Linked DNA regions of Homo sapiens: region 2 is linked to region 1. Evidence: fine-mapped expression QTL. A gene starts in region 1. The other region holds a variant in brackets. All regions are shown on one strand. Distances are between the middles of the regions.

What was found. PIP is the estimated chance that this variant, and not a neighbour inherited with it, causes the effect.
Region 2: its variant is fine-mapped to the expression of NOL8 in whole blood (TOPMed, PIP above 0.99).

The regions. Positions count from the first base shown.
Region 1 is chr9:92,320,618-92,328,953 of GRCh38, forward strand. NOL8 (nucleolar protein 8) reads right to left here and starts at 4,733. Exons shown (of 17, transcript NM_017948.6): 1 at 4,689-4,733; 2 at 3,406-3,592; 3 at 2,824-2,886; 4 at 1,051-1,129. The coding sequence starts at 3,544. It overlaps CENPP (centromere protein P), which reads left to right and starts at 5,336. Exons shown (of 8, transcript NM_001012267.3): 1 at 5,336-5,488. The coding sequence starts at 5,382. RefSeq lists enhancers at 4,015-4,903, 4,682-4,801, 4,832-4,941.
Region 2 is chr9:92,210,093-92,218,429 of GRCh38, forward strand. It overlaps IARS1 (isoleucyl-tRNA synthetase 1), which reads right to left. Exons shown (of 34, transcript NM_002161.6): 34 at 115-797. The coding sequence ends at 715. It overlaps LOC112268048 (a long non-coding RNA gene), which reads left to right. Exons shown (of 2, transcript XR_002956919.2): 2 at 1-66. Among named protein-coding and RNA genes, the nearest start is that of LINC00475, 73 kb to the left of the region's middle. RefSeq lists an enhancer at 4,283-5,179. The variant T/C (reference allele first, on the strand shown) is at 4,968.

The DNA of each region.
Region 1 (8,336 bases):
TGTTTGAGACAAGAGTTTCACTCCTGTTGCCCAGGCTGGAGTGCAATGGCACAATGTAGGCTCACTGCAACCTCCGCCTCCCAGGTTCAAGTGATTCTCCTGCCTCAGCCTCCCAAGTAGCTGGGATTACAGGAGCCCATGACCACAACCAGCTAATTTTTGTATTTTTAGTAGAGACGGGGTTTCACCACTTTAGCCAGGCTGGTCTTGAACTCCTGACCTCAGGTGATCCACCCGCCTCGGCCTCCCAAAGTGCTGGGATTACAGGCGTGAGCCACCGTGCCCGGCCTCTATCTGTATATTCTTAAATTGTTTCCTATTTTGAAAACTCCCCAACAATACCTTTTCTTCCTGAAAATACCTTTAGGATTTTAAAAGCTCTAATGGTTTTTATAATACATTGTCTTGCTCTTAAATCACTTGCATAATCACTCTTATGCCTGTCATACAGTGATCTCCTATTTCCTTTATATTTTGGTATGACACTAGCATTAACAGTCAAAATCAACATATGCAATTTAGTAGTCTACTAAAATTTAAATGCAGACAATGCTAAGATTCAGCAACTCCATTTTCTGATATAAACTGAGAGAAACACCTGCATATACATAGGATATGTGCTCCAGGATCATCTATGACCATGAAAAAGTAGAAACAGTCATCAGTGGGAAGGGACCACTACATTGTGGTATAACCATTTTCTGAAATACTACTAACAATTGTTATAAAGGGAGAAGATCTACATTGCCACAAAAGGGTGTGTTAACAAAGAGAAAATAAGTACATATATGCTTTTATAGCTCATTAACAGAGAAAATAAGTACATATATACTTTTATAGCTTATTACATACATACGTAAATGCATGAAATTATCCTTTTTGTTCGTCTGGGGTGAAGGGGATTCAGAGTTGAAAGGGATTTCAGCTCTACTTATATGTTTGAATTTGTTAAGAATATAATACTATATTACTTGATAATTTGAAATAATATATAAAACCACTTACAATATAAAAAAAATAGGGCTTAAATCCATGTGGAGCAAAACTTACCTGTGCAGAAAGCTTTCTTTTGCTAGTTGAATTTGTAATGTTCCACCTTTCCATTTTGTTTTATTTAAAACAGACATACCTATAAAGTAAAGAATTATTACAAGTACATGGCAATGTAAAAATATATTTCAGCTTGTGCTTTTTCTAATTATTTAGTATCAAGAAAAGCAGGCTTGTTTATCACAAAGAGATCCAGGGGAAGTGGAAGAAAAGAAATGAGACCTGGAGAGAGGGAGCCTAGGCTCTTGTTTCATCTTGACAACTTACCAAAAGAGTCTTTACACTCCCTATCTCACAGTGTTACTAGATTGGAATGAGGCAAAATGTGTAAAAAGTAAAGCAAAATTTATTTGCAATTTGTTTGTAAACAAATGTCAGGAACCTCTGAATAACTGATATTTAATGTATATTTTATTGTTATTTCCTGTAACTATAAAACATATATTTCCTGTAACTATAAAACAATCATCTTTTCAGGTGAATCAGAGGACACTCTGGAATCCTACAGCACCTTAATTTTATTTATCACCTCATACTAATTATCACTGTAGAACTTGCAGATGAATTAACTATGAGTGACTGAACTGTTTGAATTACTATGCCGTAGTAATTGATTTCTCTGAGCATCTGCCGTCAGCTTCCTTAATAATACCATTAACAGAATTTTGTAGGTGGTAGATACTGTACTAAGTACAAATTTATCTTTTCTTTTTGAGACAGAGTGTCCTTCTGTCGCCCAGGCTGGAGTGCAGTGGCACTATCTTGGCTCACTGCAACCTCTGCCTCCCTGGTGATTCTCCTGTCTCAGCCTCCCAAGTAGCTGGGATTACAGGTGTCTGCCACCACACCCAGCTAATTGTGGTATTTTTAGTAAAGATGGGGTTTCACCATGTTGGCCAGGCTGGTCTCAAACTCCTGACCTCAAGTGATCCACCTGCCTTAGCCTCCCAAAGTATTGCAAATGTATCATTTAATTTAATTCTCACAGAAATATTATGAGGCAAGCACTATCTTTTGTCATTCATCACATAAGCAAACTTGGGCTGAGAAGTTTAAGTAACTTGCCACAGGTCACAAAGCCTAGTTGATGTATTCTTAACCACAACTTCACATTTATCACATATATTCCTCAATGTAAAATAGAATAAAGCAATCTTTTCGCAAATGAAATTACAAAAGACTGATTGCCCTCTTCCTCTATTAGCGTGTTCCCTTTACTTATTTTCCGTGTCTTTTTTCACTTTTTGGCCTCCAAATAACTAGAATATGTTACTGTGTCAGCGGCAGTATGGATTATCTCCCATTCTTCATTGAAGGCCACTGTTTGCCCTTGACTTTACTAAACTTATCAACAAGAGATTTCACAATTTCAAGGATACGGTCTTACAAGGGTGTATTTTAAAGCCCCCTCAAGAGTGTTTAGTGACAAGGATTAGCTGTCAAAGAAATGATCAGACTGAGGGGGAATGTGGCATGATATTCAGTGGGATATATGTAACAGGCAGTTTCTATGAAAGTTTGGTCCCTTGTCCAAAATATTTGAGAATAGCAGTTTTAAGTAAACCCACCAGTAAAGTGCTACCATGTCTGCTGATGCCAAATGGAATGGACCTAAACCTGCTGAGTTATACGATACTGGAATTCTCTTCATCACTGCTGTCCCTCTGGATAACGTGAAAAATGGCTGTGGAGGTTTAGATTTAGAACCAGTTATTCCAAGTTACAGAGTCATACAAACTGGCAAACAGTATAGAAAATATATGATGATCTTACATTTTTTCAGGTCCGCTTCTGCTACACTGATGTTGATATATGCAAAAACTTTCTGTGGGTTTCCTAAAAAACAAACAAACAAACAAACAAAACAATTTATTTAAATTCTTATCCAGAGAGCAATGTAAAAACGGTTGTTTCTAAATTAAAAAAAAAAATAGCTCTTGAAAACTTATTATTTCAAAGATAAACCTTGTTTTTTATTGGCTATAAAAATAAGCATAATTATCAAAATATTCCAAAAAAAAAAAGAAGAAAATGTCCAGTAGTCAGATAAGGAAACATTTTGATTGTATGCTAGTGATAGTCTACTTAACGGGACACTTAATCCATGTTAGAAAATTCTAGTTCTCAAAACTGGAAGTTAATATGTTTCTGAAATCAGATGTTTTAGAATTTGGAATTTTTTCTTATTTCAGAAACAAATTCTGGTCAAGTTCCACATCACACATTATACCTCCACAACATCACTTAAAACTTTTGGTGTTCAGAGCTAACATTTATCTTGGGGTTGTTTTATTTTCTAGCACTTAACCTGAGTTATGTCTGCCTATAACTGCCCAGTGAAGGACCATAAATTACCTTGGTCATCTTTCCGTGTGATGATCTCCACATCCGAAACTTCTCCAAATCTGCTGAACTGATTTTGTAGGTCTGCCTCAGAAATGTCCTGGCTAAGGCCACCCACATAAAGGCGCTTCGTTTCTCTGTTCACTTTCATGAAGGCTGGGCATATACTTGGGTGTGTTTCAGTGGGAAAAGTAATTTTCTGTATACAGAGAAGAGTTCTTTCCCTTAGTTCTTCTAAAATCTAACAAAACAACTACTTCCTCTGAACCTTCTGTATCAAATCCGTCTCCTGGATCTGTATTTCACTTCCTATTGTATTACTTCCAAATTTTAGTCTTCGAGGTTTTGCCCAAGCCCTACATCCACATCTTTCATGAATGCACTTTGGAACAGCAACCCCATACCCATATAGACACAGGTACAGACAGAGTTTTTTTCCTCCAAATGGCCATAATATTACACTCTATCCCTCTTAATTTTATGTATTCATGTTTTTAGATGTTTTTCCTTGACTCACTCATACATTCATTTACTGTCTTTAACAAAGTCTGACAGAAACAGGATGTAACGCACTAAAAGATAAAAAGAGCTAGCCTACCTCTTCCTAATTGTCTCCACCCCCAACCTACCCACCCCAGCCTTCTTCCTCCTAGAAGACCCAAAGAAGTGAATAGAGAGGCTAGGAGCTCCTTATAGTCACAAAAGAATAAAACAAATGGCACAATATTATGTCACAATAAAAGTGCTGCAAAGTGGGGTTCAGACACAAAGATCAAGGGATATAGCGAATACAGACTTGTGTTTTTGCTATGTGCCTGCATTGTACAAAGTAGTTTGCATGTTTCCCATTTTTCAGGAGAGCAGAAGAGGTTAAGTCACTTCCTCAATGCCATACCGAAAATTAGTGAATCCAGGATTATAATGCAGGTCTACCTTCAGAACTTGGAATTCTTAACACTATACTATGAAGGTTGCTGTATCACAGGGGACTCAGGAAAACTTTTCCAGAGGTACTAGGGCCCATCATAGTATCTCTCATTTCGTTTAGCACCCGGCAGGCGCTCAGCTCTCGCCCTTCCCTTCCCCAAGAGCTGACAGACTCTTTCCAGAAGAGACTCCCAACCAGCGTCCACCACATGGCGTGTATTCTGGGCAGAACTTCGGCCTACCTCTTCCCGATAGTCTCCGCCCCCAGCCTACCCACGGCAGCCTTCTTTCTCTGAGAAGACCCAAAGAAGTGAAGAGAGACTAGGAAACGGCCCTGTGACTTCTCATGCCCGAAACCCACTCCTCACCACGTCGTTCACCTAAAGCCAGCGCCGCTGCAGCCCCTAACTTCTGGTCACGTGTCCCAACGGAGCATCCTCTCTTCCTTCCTACTCGATTTCCAACCCAGCCTCCTAAGGTTCCGTTACCACAATTCAGTTCCCAAGAGCTTTTAATTTCCTTTTCCGTCCTCCCACCTTCCCTGACGCCTCCGTCACCTCCCCCTCAACGACTGCAAAAGAGCCTAAACCAAAATCCCCTAGTTTCTATTGAACACTATCGCTGTGTGTACCAATTCCTGGACTAGGTCGGCGTAAGAGAGGAAGTAGGTGAAAAAAATAAAGAGGCGCTCCCCTCCACGTGATCCCAGCCCTGCCTCTTTAGTGAGGCACGCGGCCGGGCGGCTCCAAGGCTGCCGGCTAGGGTGAGCAGCGGAGCGCTTGGGCTTGGAGTAGCAAAGAACGCGCTCTCCAGAGAAAGTATAGCCACTGCTTAGACAGCCAGGGAAACGTGTGCGGGGAAGTGGAGGACTCAGGCTCTCGTGCGAGAGCGGAGTTGGACGTGCAGGGCCGCTGGGGTCACGCGGAGCTCTCCCGCCTCCCCTCCGCGTGAGCTCTGGGATGGTCCGCGCCGGGAGCGCGCGCGAGGCTTGAAGCGCGGGTGAAGCGCGCAGGTCGGAGTGACAGCTGCGCTGCCGGCCCGGCTGCGGTCAGCAACGCGCCATGGACGCAGAGCTGGCAGAGGTGCGCGCCTTGCAAGCTGAGATCGCGGCCCTGCGGCGAGCGTGTGAGGACCCACCGGCGCCCTGGGAAGAGAAGTCCCGAGTCCAGTACGTGACCACCCCAAGTCCCCCAGGGCCCGCTGGCCAGGGTTCCCGGGCCAGGCGGGTGAATCTCCACAGACATCCTCGGTCTCCTACTCCCAGCCCTAGAAAGTGGGCATGAACTGGCATTGATCCTGTCATGACGATGGCCTAGAGTTGGGAGCAGCGCGTACGGCGCCCAGCTGTAAACGCATTGCAGGGTATTAACTCGTTTAATCGCAGTCGTCTGTGTGGATGACTGACAAGGAGGAAGTCTTGACTATATCCCTAGCTAGATAATTCCGCCTCCAGTATGCAGAAGTATCTCTAGTTGGGATTTAATAACTCCGTTTGGTTTCATGGCATTTGTTTTGGTAGGTCAGCTAACCATCTCAACTGATAATGACTTTGTGTTTACGATGACATAAAAATTCCTTTGAAAAATAACTTCGGTAAAAAACTAAGTTGATAAAAGAAAAGTAGTTAATATAGACTGCAGGAGAATTTGACATTCCTCTGAGGTAGGTGCTACTGTTAGCCCTGTTTTATAGTTGAAGAAACTGAGGCTCAGAGAAGTTAGGTAGCTTGTCCAAGGTTCCAGAGAAAGGAATTGTCAGAGATGGATTGGGACCCAAAAATTTTACTCCAAAGTCTGGGCACTTTTGGTTTATTGAAGGAGAGGGAGAGAAAAGCTCTGCAACCGTAATTATGTATTATCATCTCAAACATAGAAGCCTCTCGAAAACATAAACTGTCTTCAATTTTTGAGTCAAGAGTAATTTGACATAGGTGCAGAAAGAATGGGATTTTTCCTGAGCTAACTGGAGAAGAATTGGTAGAAAATGGGAAGGAGGAGATCTACAGAAAATGTCTGCGTGCGGTCATGAAAGTAGAGGAAGCTGTGACTGGTTAAAGGGAGAGGAAAAAGGTGTGCTCCTCCACAAATGAGAGTAAATGTATTAAAGACCCTTGCTATTTGAGGTGTGCTCCACAGATGGGACGCTTTAGCATTACCTGGCGGTTTGTTAGAGCGACATCCTGACCTACTGAATCAGAATCTGCATTTTAAAAAAATACACTGCCCTAACAGAGGATTTGTGTGCACACTTGGAAGTTTAAGAACCAGGGAAAAATAGTTTCTTTACTGGCCACAAGATTTCATTAGTCCCCATAGTAGTGTCAACTGAAAAATCATGAGATCTGCAAATTTAGAGAGACTATTTCTTAAAAAGGGTTACAGTCTGCAAAGTGGCCATCCTGACAGGCTAGGAAGCATAGTCTCAGGCAAAGCAGAAAGGCCCACACTTTGGAGGAGGAGGGGTTGGGGCAGGGATTTATGCTGTATGAGTGGGCTAGGTATACATATTCAACAGGTTATAGGAGGGGCTATGAATATTCACGAAGGGAGATGTGCTCACCTGTACTGAATAAAAATGCATATTACATGCACTCCATATTCATTTTGGGAAGCTGACTTAATATTTAAATGCATTACAATTAGGCCCTGTACGTCAAAAGTTGAAGGAGGGAAGCAAAGGTACTTAAGTACACAGGCCTTGTAAACCTGTTAGAACAAGTCCATGGTTGGTGATCTTATCAAAAGAAAATTTTTGAAATCATTCTCTTGTCCTATCAAAGCCTGTGGAACAGGGGAATCAGTTAGCATCTGGTGGTGGATGAACTGCAATTATTTCAATATTGCTTATCTGGAGGCCAGTGCTAGTGAAAAAAATATTGTGGCAGTTAGAACATAGTTCATTCTTTTAAAGGTAGGGGGTATGTGACTTAACCCTTGCCTGGCATGGCCTTAGGTCTTGTTTATAATTTGGTATCTTATTGCCACAGAGTCCGTTCTGCAACTCTTACGATCTCTATTTTAACATTAATGCTGGTCAGTTGTTGTGTCTACATCCCAAATAGGAAGGGGTATAACGAGGTGTGTCTGACCTCCCATCCTGTCATGGTTAAGAACTGAGTTTTTAAGGTTTCTTTGGGGTCCCCTTGACCAAGAGGGAGTCGGTTCAGGTGATTGTGGGGGTGGGGTAGGATTTTATTTTTAGTTCTTAGTAGATTATTTATATAATCTGGGACTTCTCAGTGGTTAAATTGGAAAGTCAGAAGAGTCCAGATTGTGGGAGACATTAAATGTCAGTCCAGGGTGTTTGGATTTAACCGTGAGGTTTCTTTTCACTATAGTGGAGGAGGAGGATTGGAACCTATGTACCAAGCTATTTTTTTAAGTGATTATAAGTGGTTGGATGGATTGGAGGTAGGAAAATTGGAGCTAAATTATTCAGCTATATCCATATGTCCACACTGTGGAGCCAAATTGCCTGCTTTCAAATCCTGTCTCTGCTATTGGCTGAGTGATCTTGGTTAAGTGAGCTCCCCCTTTCTGTGCTTCAGTTTCCTCCGTGGTAAAATTATACCCAAGTTTTTGGGTTGCTGTGAGGACTAATTGAGTTAATATATGTAGTTCATTTAGAAGAGTACTTGCCTCATAATAGTAACTAACACTCATTAGTAGACCATTGACCTTTAAACTCGTGTACAGATTGATTTTAAAGGAAAAAAAATTCTTGCAAGCTCCTAATTCTGACAAAAAATTTTTATGTTATGAGGACAAACTTACAAATAATAAAACCACAAAGTGAATAAAATTCAAACAAATCCAAAATAGCTCAAACTAACATCATTAGTTGAAATACACAAATATTTTGCTCAAACTAAATAACTGCTATGAATAAGAATATGCAGATTTTCTTTTTGTGGCAAAATATACATAAGATTTACTATTTTAACCATTTTTGAGCGTTCAGCTCAATGGCATTAAACACATGCACATTGTTGTACAGCCATCACCACTGTCCATCTT
Region 2 (8,337 bases), 110 kb before region 1:
TACGCTTGCTCCATCTCCCGTTTATCCTCCATTTATGTTTCCTCTAATAAATTCTTGCACATCTAACTTTGTCATGTCATCTGCTTCTCTGAGGACTCAAATTATCACCTGGGATTTTGGAAAGAAGTTTTATTAGATGTCTAGTCCACTGTCTTAATAAGAAACCACCATGAAGTTTTTATGTTCTTCAAAGTTTACACATTTCAAGTTTCATTTATCTATGGGAGAATGAATTACTTTCAACACATTTATATCTGAGTTTGTTTATTGTTCTGATTTACTGAAACTTAAAATATTCCATCAAATTATCCAGGAAAATCCAGGTGGCAGAAATATATAATATGTCCATTTCATCAAGAGGTCTCAAATAAATTTTAAAAGGCCAGAAAATGATATATATACTATGCCATTTAAATCACTTCTATCTTCTGTACTTAAGAACTCAAGTATAGAAATAAACTGTGGGCTGAAGTAACATTGTAACCTGCTCCCAACATGACTGCATAGGTGTCTAAGGTTAAGTGTGAAGATTACTGTGAGGTCTCAAGTTACTTGACTAATCAATCCCATTTGAATTTCAATCCAAGCAGCATATTTTACACACACCTGAAGGAAATATCTTCAGTGTGTTCATGTGTGTGTCTATGTGCATGTATGTGTAGGGGATAGGTGTAATTAGGGAAGGGCTGACCGAACAACATTGATAAGTACATGCTAGAAGTCTGCTGTTGTTGGTAACACAGAAACATACACAGTCTTCATATTCAAAGTCTTCACGGGGATGTCTTCTGTAATTTCTAGAATGGAAAGAAAAAGTTGAAAAAAAATCAGTATTTTACCTATTGGGGGTGAATATTTAAAAAAATGTTAACTGCTTGTGTAGTAAGGAATTTGGCCTTATCCTAAGAGTTCTGCCTTTTGTCCCAGCTCCTGAGGTGAACCTCTAAATCCTTGGAATTTCCTGGTAGGAATCTTTGTTTCTCATGGTGGGTATGTTCACCAAACCTGACAGTTGTTGCTAATGAGACAATTCAGGGTAGTGCTGGCCAGGACAGAAAGACCAAGTATATGATTTAGGATGGGGACTTTGGGTCACATGGTATATCAGTTGAGAAAGACAGCAATCATGCCTACAGAATGAAACCTCAACAGAAACTGGACACCAAGGCTCGAGTGAGCTTCCCTGGTTGGTAATATAGTCTCTGTGTTGTCAGATGTAAGGGATGAGAGGAAGAAACATTATCCATGACTCCAGGGTCTCTCTCTCTCTCTCACTCTCGCTGGTTCTAACGTGTATCCTTTCCCTACCCTAATTCAAACCATGAGTGTAATACCTTTTAGTGAGTCTGAGTCCTCCTAGCAGGTTACTGAACCTGAGGGTGGTTTAGGAAAATCCCTGGAACTTGCAGTTGGTGCCAGCAGTGATGGGGGTCTTGTGTGGATCTTTCCCTGAGTAGAATCCTCACTCCTTGCAGGTGGAGTTAGATATCGGGCAGACTCCTGGAGCCTTCTGGAGGACTATGCCATCACTTCACAGTTTGGCTAACTCTGGGTACTGCCAAGATGGTTATTTTTCCTCATACACAGATACTTCCTATGTCTACAAAAAAAGCCTAGAGGCTGTGCCAACTCAGTATCCCAGATATGTGGTTTCAAAATATGATTCTCTATAATTTGAAGAACAGCTATTTTCTACGTCTGGAGAAGTAAAAGTACATAATAAGCCTAGGACATGTTGCTACGTGAGAAAGCAAGAATTTACCAAAGACAAAGGATCATGTTAAAGAATACAGGATCCAATATGGCCAATGACGAAAACTCTGAGCATCCAAAAATATAACCCAAATGCAATTGATTGAAATATACTGAATATACAACTCAAAAACAAAAAAAAAGAAAATTTAAAGTTATCTGCCTACTGTGGAGCATTTTGCTTCTAGTCAGATCTGAATTTAAAGCAAACAGATGAGCTTCCTTTAAAAATAGCTCTTGTCCTACCTAGCAGCAATCCTAGATGTGAGAATACTCTCAAAGCTACTTCCTTAATAGATAATTACAGGACCTGGAGATGATGTTTAGAGTTTAGTGGAGCAAGCAAGAAGACATCTAAGGGTTTCTAAAATGGTCAACATTTTGTGGCTCTTCTAATTTACCAAGTTATTGATACTTTATGAAAGACAATTCTGAGAGAAAAGGCATAATGAAAACGAAGCTATAGATACTAGATTGGAAAGATACTGAATTAGAAAAAGTTCCAACTTTGTGGTAATCTTAGATAAATCACTAAACATTTAAAAGTTCTCACCCACTAAACTTTTGCCTAACTAACGTCACAGAGTAAAGAGAATACAGAAAGGCAGCACAGGTTAAGAATGGTTCTGTGAATTGCAGGTAGTATTATAAATACATAATTCATACAGACATGGTTCTACCCCTGACCAGGTTCAATCATGCCACTGCATTTGCTTGCAAGAACAAGTGAGAGATAAATGTCATCTTCAGCTCCACTGCACAACAGTACTTGGTGACCAAAGGATTTGAGGGACAAGAAGAGTTAAGAATTATCTCTAAAGTTTTATATAAGCTTATCAAAATAGAAAGCTACATTATTAGATGATCTTTACTACCATACCACAATGAAAGAGCCAAGTGTGTTCGAGGGAGAGTGAAAAAAGCCTTTGATAGAGTGAAAGACTCATGGACAGAATTAGCAAGACAGGGAAGGCCCAGAGCAGGAAGGATCTTGTGTGGAAGGGAAGATTCTGAGGCATAAGAGAATAAGGAGCTTTGGGGGCTCTAAGCAAGGGAACAAAATCAAGGCAGGAATGTTCATGAAGATAGCTCTGGTGAAGAGTACAGACTGCAGACTGGTGACTTAGATGGATGATGAGGCCCAATGATGAGATGAGAGGGAAAACGACAAAGGAGAGTCACTGAAAATAAACCCAGGGAGGGAAGGAGGAACCCAAGAAGAAATAGAGCTTTAGTATTTAACATCATGACAGAAAATTTAAAAGTACGATATGCAACTAAATTTAAAAAAAAAAGCTGCACAGGAAGAAAACGGGAGAATTACACAGAGGCCAAAAATAATGACTCCCATGGGGTCTGGTGGCTTAATGCTTTTGGCACTAAAGAGCTAGGAAAGCAGGGAAAGAAAAGCCTCCGGTATATACAAACCGGGAAGTCCAACAAATCTCTGCTGAAGAAACTGGAACTTCAAATAAGAAACCCATAGCAAAAGGGTTAATTTGAGTAAGTTCCTTCACCACAAGAGAAAAAGTGAAGAGAATGTAATCGGTTAATAATGGCCTTCCAAAGATATGCCCAGGTTCTAAATTCCCAGGAGCTGTGAATGTTCACTTTATTTGGAAAAAGAGGAAACAGAAGAGAAGGAGGCAATGTGACCACGGAGTCAGAGACTGAAGTGATGTGGCCACAAGTCAAGGGATGCCTGGCGCCACCATAAGCTAGAAGAAGTATATAAGGAATTCTCCCACAGAGCCTTCAGAGAGACTGTGGCCTTTCTGACACCCTAATTTCAGTGTCTGGCCTCCAGAGCTGTGAGATGACTTGAGCCATCCCATTTGTGGAAATTTGTTGCAGCAGCCACAGAAACCAATACAGAGAAAATCACCTCACTTAGCTTTGTTTTGGAGTAGGGATAGACAGATCCTGTCTCCATCACAACTCCTGGCCTTTGTGTATGACTGGGAATGCCATAGATTTTTTTTCTGAGATGGAGTTTAACTCTTGTCGCCCAGGCTGGAGTGCAGTGATGCAATCTCAGCACACTGCAACCTCTGCCTCCCAGGTTCAAGAGATTCTCCTGCCTCAGCCTCCCAAGTAGCTGGGATTACAGGCATGTGCCACCATGTCCAGCTAATTTTAGTAGAGATGGGGTTTCACCATATTGGCCATGCTGGTCTTGAACTCTGCCCACCTCAGCCTCCCAAAGTGCTGGGATTACACGAGTGAGCCACCACGCAGACCCAGTCACAGCTTTCTTAACATTCTCCCTATGGTCCAAAATGATTGAGTTTAAAGTGTGTCTGGGTTGTCAGTGTCTCCAAGGAACTAGACGTATGCTTCTTAAAACTGGGCTTCAACAGAAACATAACAGAACAAGCAGAGCAGACGGGCAATGTAAACAGAAAGACGGAAACTCAAAGAATAGAATGGTCTGGGTGTGGTGGCTCACCCCCGTAATCCCAGCACTTTGGGAGGCCCAAGTGGGTGGATCACCTGAGGTCAGGAGTTTGAGACCAGCCTGGCCAACATGGTGAAACCCTGTCTCTACTAAAATTACAAAAATTGGGGGAGGAGCCAAGATGGCCAAATAGGAACAGCTCCGGTCTACAACTCCCAGGGTGAGCGATGCAGAAGACAGTGATTTCTGAATTTCCATCTGAGGTACCGGGTTCATCTCACTAGGGAGTGCCAGACAGTGGGCGCAGGTCAGTGGGTGCACGCACCGTGCGCGAGCCGAAGCAGGGCGAGGCATTGCCTCACTTGGGAAGTGCAAGGGGTCAGGGAGTTCCCTTTCCGAGTCAAAGAAAGGGGTGACGGACGGCACCTGGAAAATTGGGTCACTCCCACCCGAATACTGCGCTTTTCCGATGGGCTTAAAAAACGGCGCACCACGAGATTATACCCCGCACCTAGCTCGGAGGGTCCTACGCCCACGGAGTCTCGCTGATTGCTAGCATAGCAGTCTGAGATCAAACTGCAAGGCGGCAGCAAGGCTGGGGGAGGGGCGCCCGCCATTGCCCAGGCTTGCTTAGGTAAACAAAGCAGCCGGGAAGCTCGAATTGGGTGGAGCCCACCACAGCTCAAGGAGGCCTGCATGCCTCTGTAGGCTCCACCTCTGGGGGCAGGGCACAGACAAACAAAAAGACAGCAGTAACCTCTGCAGACTTAAATGTCCCTGTCTGACAGCTTTGAAGAGAGCAGTGGTTCTCCCAGCA[T/C]GCAGCTGGAGATCTGAGAACGGGCAGACTGCCTCCTCAAGTGGGTCCCTGACCCCTGACCCCCGAGCAGCCTATCTGGGAGGCACCCCCCAGCAGGGGCACACTGATACCTCACACGGCAGGGTATTCCAACAGACTTGCAGTTGAGGGTCCTGTCTGTCAGAAGGAAAACTAACAAACAGAAAGGACATCCACACCAAAAACCCATCTGTACGTCACCATCATCAAAGACCAAAAGTAGATAAAACCACAAAGATGGGGAAAAAACAGAACAGAAAAACTGGAAACTCTAAAAAGCAGAGTGCCTCTCCTCCTCCAAAGGAACACAGTTCCTCACCAGCAACGGAACAAAGCTGGATGGAGAATGACTTTGACGAGCTGAGAGAAGAGGGCTTCAGACGATCAAATTACTCTGAGCTATGGGAGGACATACAAACCAAAGGCAAAGAAGTTGAAAACTTTGAAAAAAATTTAGAAGAATGTATAACTAGAATAACCAATACAGAGAAGTGCTTAAAGGAGCTGATGGAGCTGAAAACCAAGGCTCGAGAACTACGTGAAGAATGCAGAAGCCTCAGGAGCCGATGCGATCAACTGGAAGAAAGAATATCAGCGATGGAAGATGAAATGAATGAAATGAAGCGAGAAGGGAAGTTTAGAGAAAAAAGAATAAAACGAAATGAGTAAAGCCTCCAAGAAATATGGGACTATGTGAAAAGACCAAATCTACGTCTGACTGGTGTACCTGAAAGTGATGGGGAGAATGGAACCAAGTTGGAAAACACTCTGCAGGATATTATCCAGGAGAACTTCCCCTATCTAGCGAGGCAGGCCAACGTTCAGATTCAGGAAATACAGAGAACGCCACAAAGATACTCCTCGAGAAGAGCAACTCCAAGACACATAATTGTCAGATTCACCAAAGTTGAAATGAAGGAAAAAATGTTAAGGGCAGCCAGAGAGAAAGGTCGGGTTACCCACAAAGGGAAGCCCATCAGACTAACAGCAGATCTCTCGGCAGAAACCCTACAAGCCAGAAGAGAGTGGGGGCCAATATTCAACATTCTTAAAGAAAAGAATTTTCAACCCAGAATTTCATATCCAGCCAAACTAAGCTTCATAAGAGAAGGAGAAATAAAATACTTTACAGACAAGCAAATGCTGAGAGATTTTGTCACCACCAGGCCTGCCCTAAAAGAGCTCCTGAAGGAAGCGCTAAACATGGAAAGGAACAACCGGTACCAGCTGCTGCAAAATCATGCCAAAATGTAAAGACCATCGAGACTAGGAAGAAACTACATCAACTAACGAGCAAAATAAACAGCTAACATCATAATGACAGGATCAAATTCACACATAACAATATTAACTTTAAATGTAAATGGACTAAATGCTCCAATTAAAAGACACAGACTGGCAAATTGGATAAAGAGTCAAGACCCATCAGTGTGCTGTATTCAGGAAACCCATCTCATGTGCAGAGACACACATAGGCTCAAAATAAAAGGATGGAGGAAGATCTACCAAGCAAATGGAAAACAAAAAAAGGCAGGGGTTGCAATCCTAGTCTCGGATAAAACAGACTTTAAACCAACAAAGATCAAAAGAGACAAAGAAGGCCATTACATAATGGTAAAGGGATCAATTCAACAAGAAGAGCTAACTATCCTAAATATATATGCACCCAATACAGGAGCACCCAGATTCATAAAGCAAGTCCTGAGTGACCTACAAAGAGACTTAGACTCCCACACATTAATAATGGGAGACTTTAACACCCCACTGTCAACATTAGACAGATCAACGAGACAGAAAGTCAACAAGGATACCCAGGAATTGAACTCAGCTCTGCACCAAGCGGACCTAGTAGACATCTACAGAACTCTCCACCCCAAATTAACAGAATATACATTTTTTTCAGCACCACACCACACCTATTCCAAAATTGACCACATACTTGGAAGTAAAGCTCTCCTCAGCAAATGTAAAAGAACAGAAATTATAACAAACTGTCTCTCAGACCACAGTGCAATCAAACTAGAACTCAGGATTAAGAATCTCACTCAAAACCGCTCAACTACATGGAAACTGAACAACCTGCTCCTGAATGACTAATGGGTACATAACAAAATGAAGGCAGAAATAAAGATGTTCTTTGAAACCAATGAGAACAAAGACACAACATACCAGAATCTCTGAGACGCATTCAAAGCAGTGTGTAGAGGGAAATTTATAGCACTAAATGCCCACAAGAGAAAGCAGGAAAGATCCAAAATTGACACCCTAACATCACAATTAAAAGAACTAGAAAAGCAAGAGCAAACACATTCAAAAGCTAGCAGAAGGCAAGAAATAACTAAAATCAGAGCAGAACTGAAGGAAATAGAGACACAAAAAACCCTTCAAAAAATTAATGAATCCAGGAGCTGGTTTTTTGAAAGGATCAACAAAATTGACAGACCACTAGCAAGACTAATAAAGAAAAAAAGAGAGCAGAATCAAATAGACGCAATACAAAATGATAAAGGGGATATCACCACCGATCCCACAGAAATACAAACTACCATCAGAGAATACTACAAACACCTCTACGCAAATAAACTAGAAAATCTAGAAGAAATGGATAAATTCCTCGACACATACATTCTCCCAAGACTAAACCAGGAAGAAGTTGAATCTCTGAATAGACCAATAACAGACTCTGAAATTGTGGCAATAATCAATAGCTTACCAACCAAAAAGAGTCCAGGACCAGATGGATTCACAGCCGAATTCTACCAGAGGTACAAGGAGGAACTGGTACCATTCCTTCTGAAACTATTCCAATCAACAGAAAAAGAGGGAATCCTCCCTAACTCCTTTTATGAGGCCAGCATCATTCTGATACCAAAGCCAGGCAGAGACACAACCAAAAAAGAGAATTTTAGACCAATATCCTTGATGAACATTGATGCAAAAATCCTCAATAAAATACTGGCAAAACGAATCCAGCAGCACATTAAAAAGCTTATCCACCATGATCAAGTGGGCTTCATCCCTGGGATGCAAGGCTGGTTCAATATACGCAAATCAGTAAATGTAATCCAGCATATAAACAGAGCCAAAGACAAAAACCACATGATTATCTCAATAGATGCAGAAAAAGCCTTTGACAAAATTCAACAACCCTTCATGCTAAAAACTCTCAATAAATTAGGTATTGATGGGACATATTTCAAAATAATAAGAGCTATCTATGACAAACCCACAGCCAATATCATACTGAATGGGCAAAAACTGGAAGCATTCCCTTGGAAAACTGGCACAAGACAGGGATGCCCTCTCTCACCACTCCTATTCAACATAGTGTTGGAAGTTCTGGCCAGGGCAA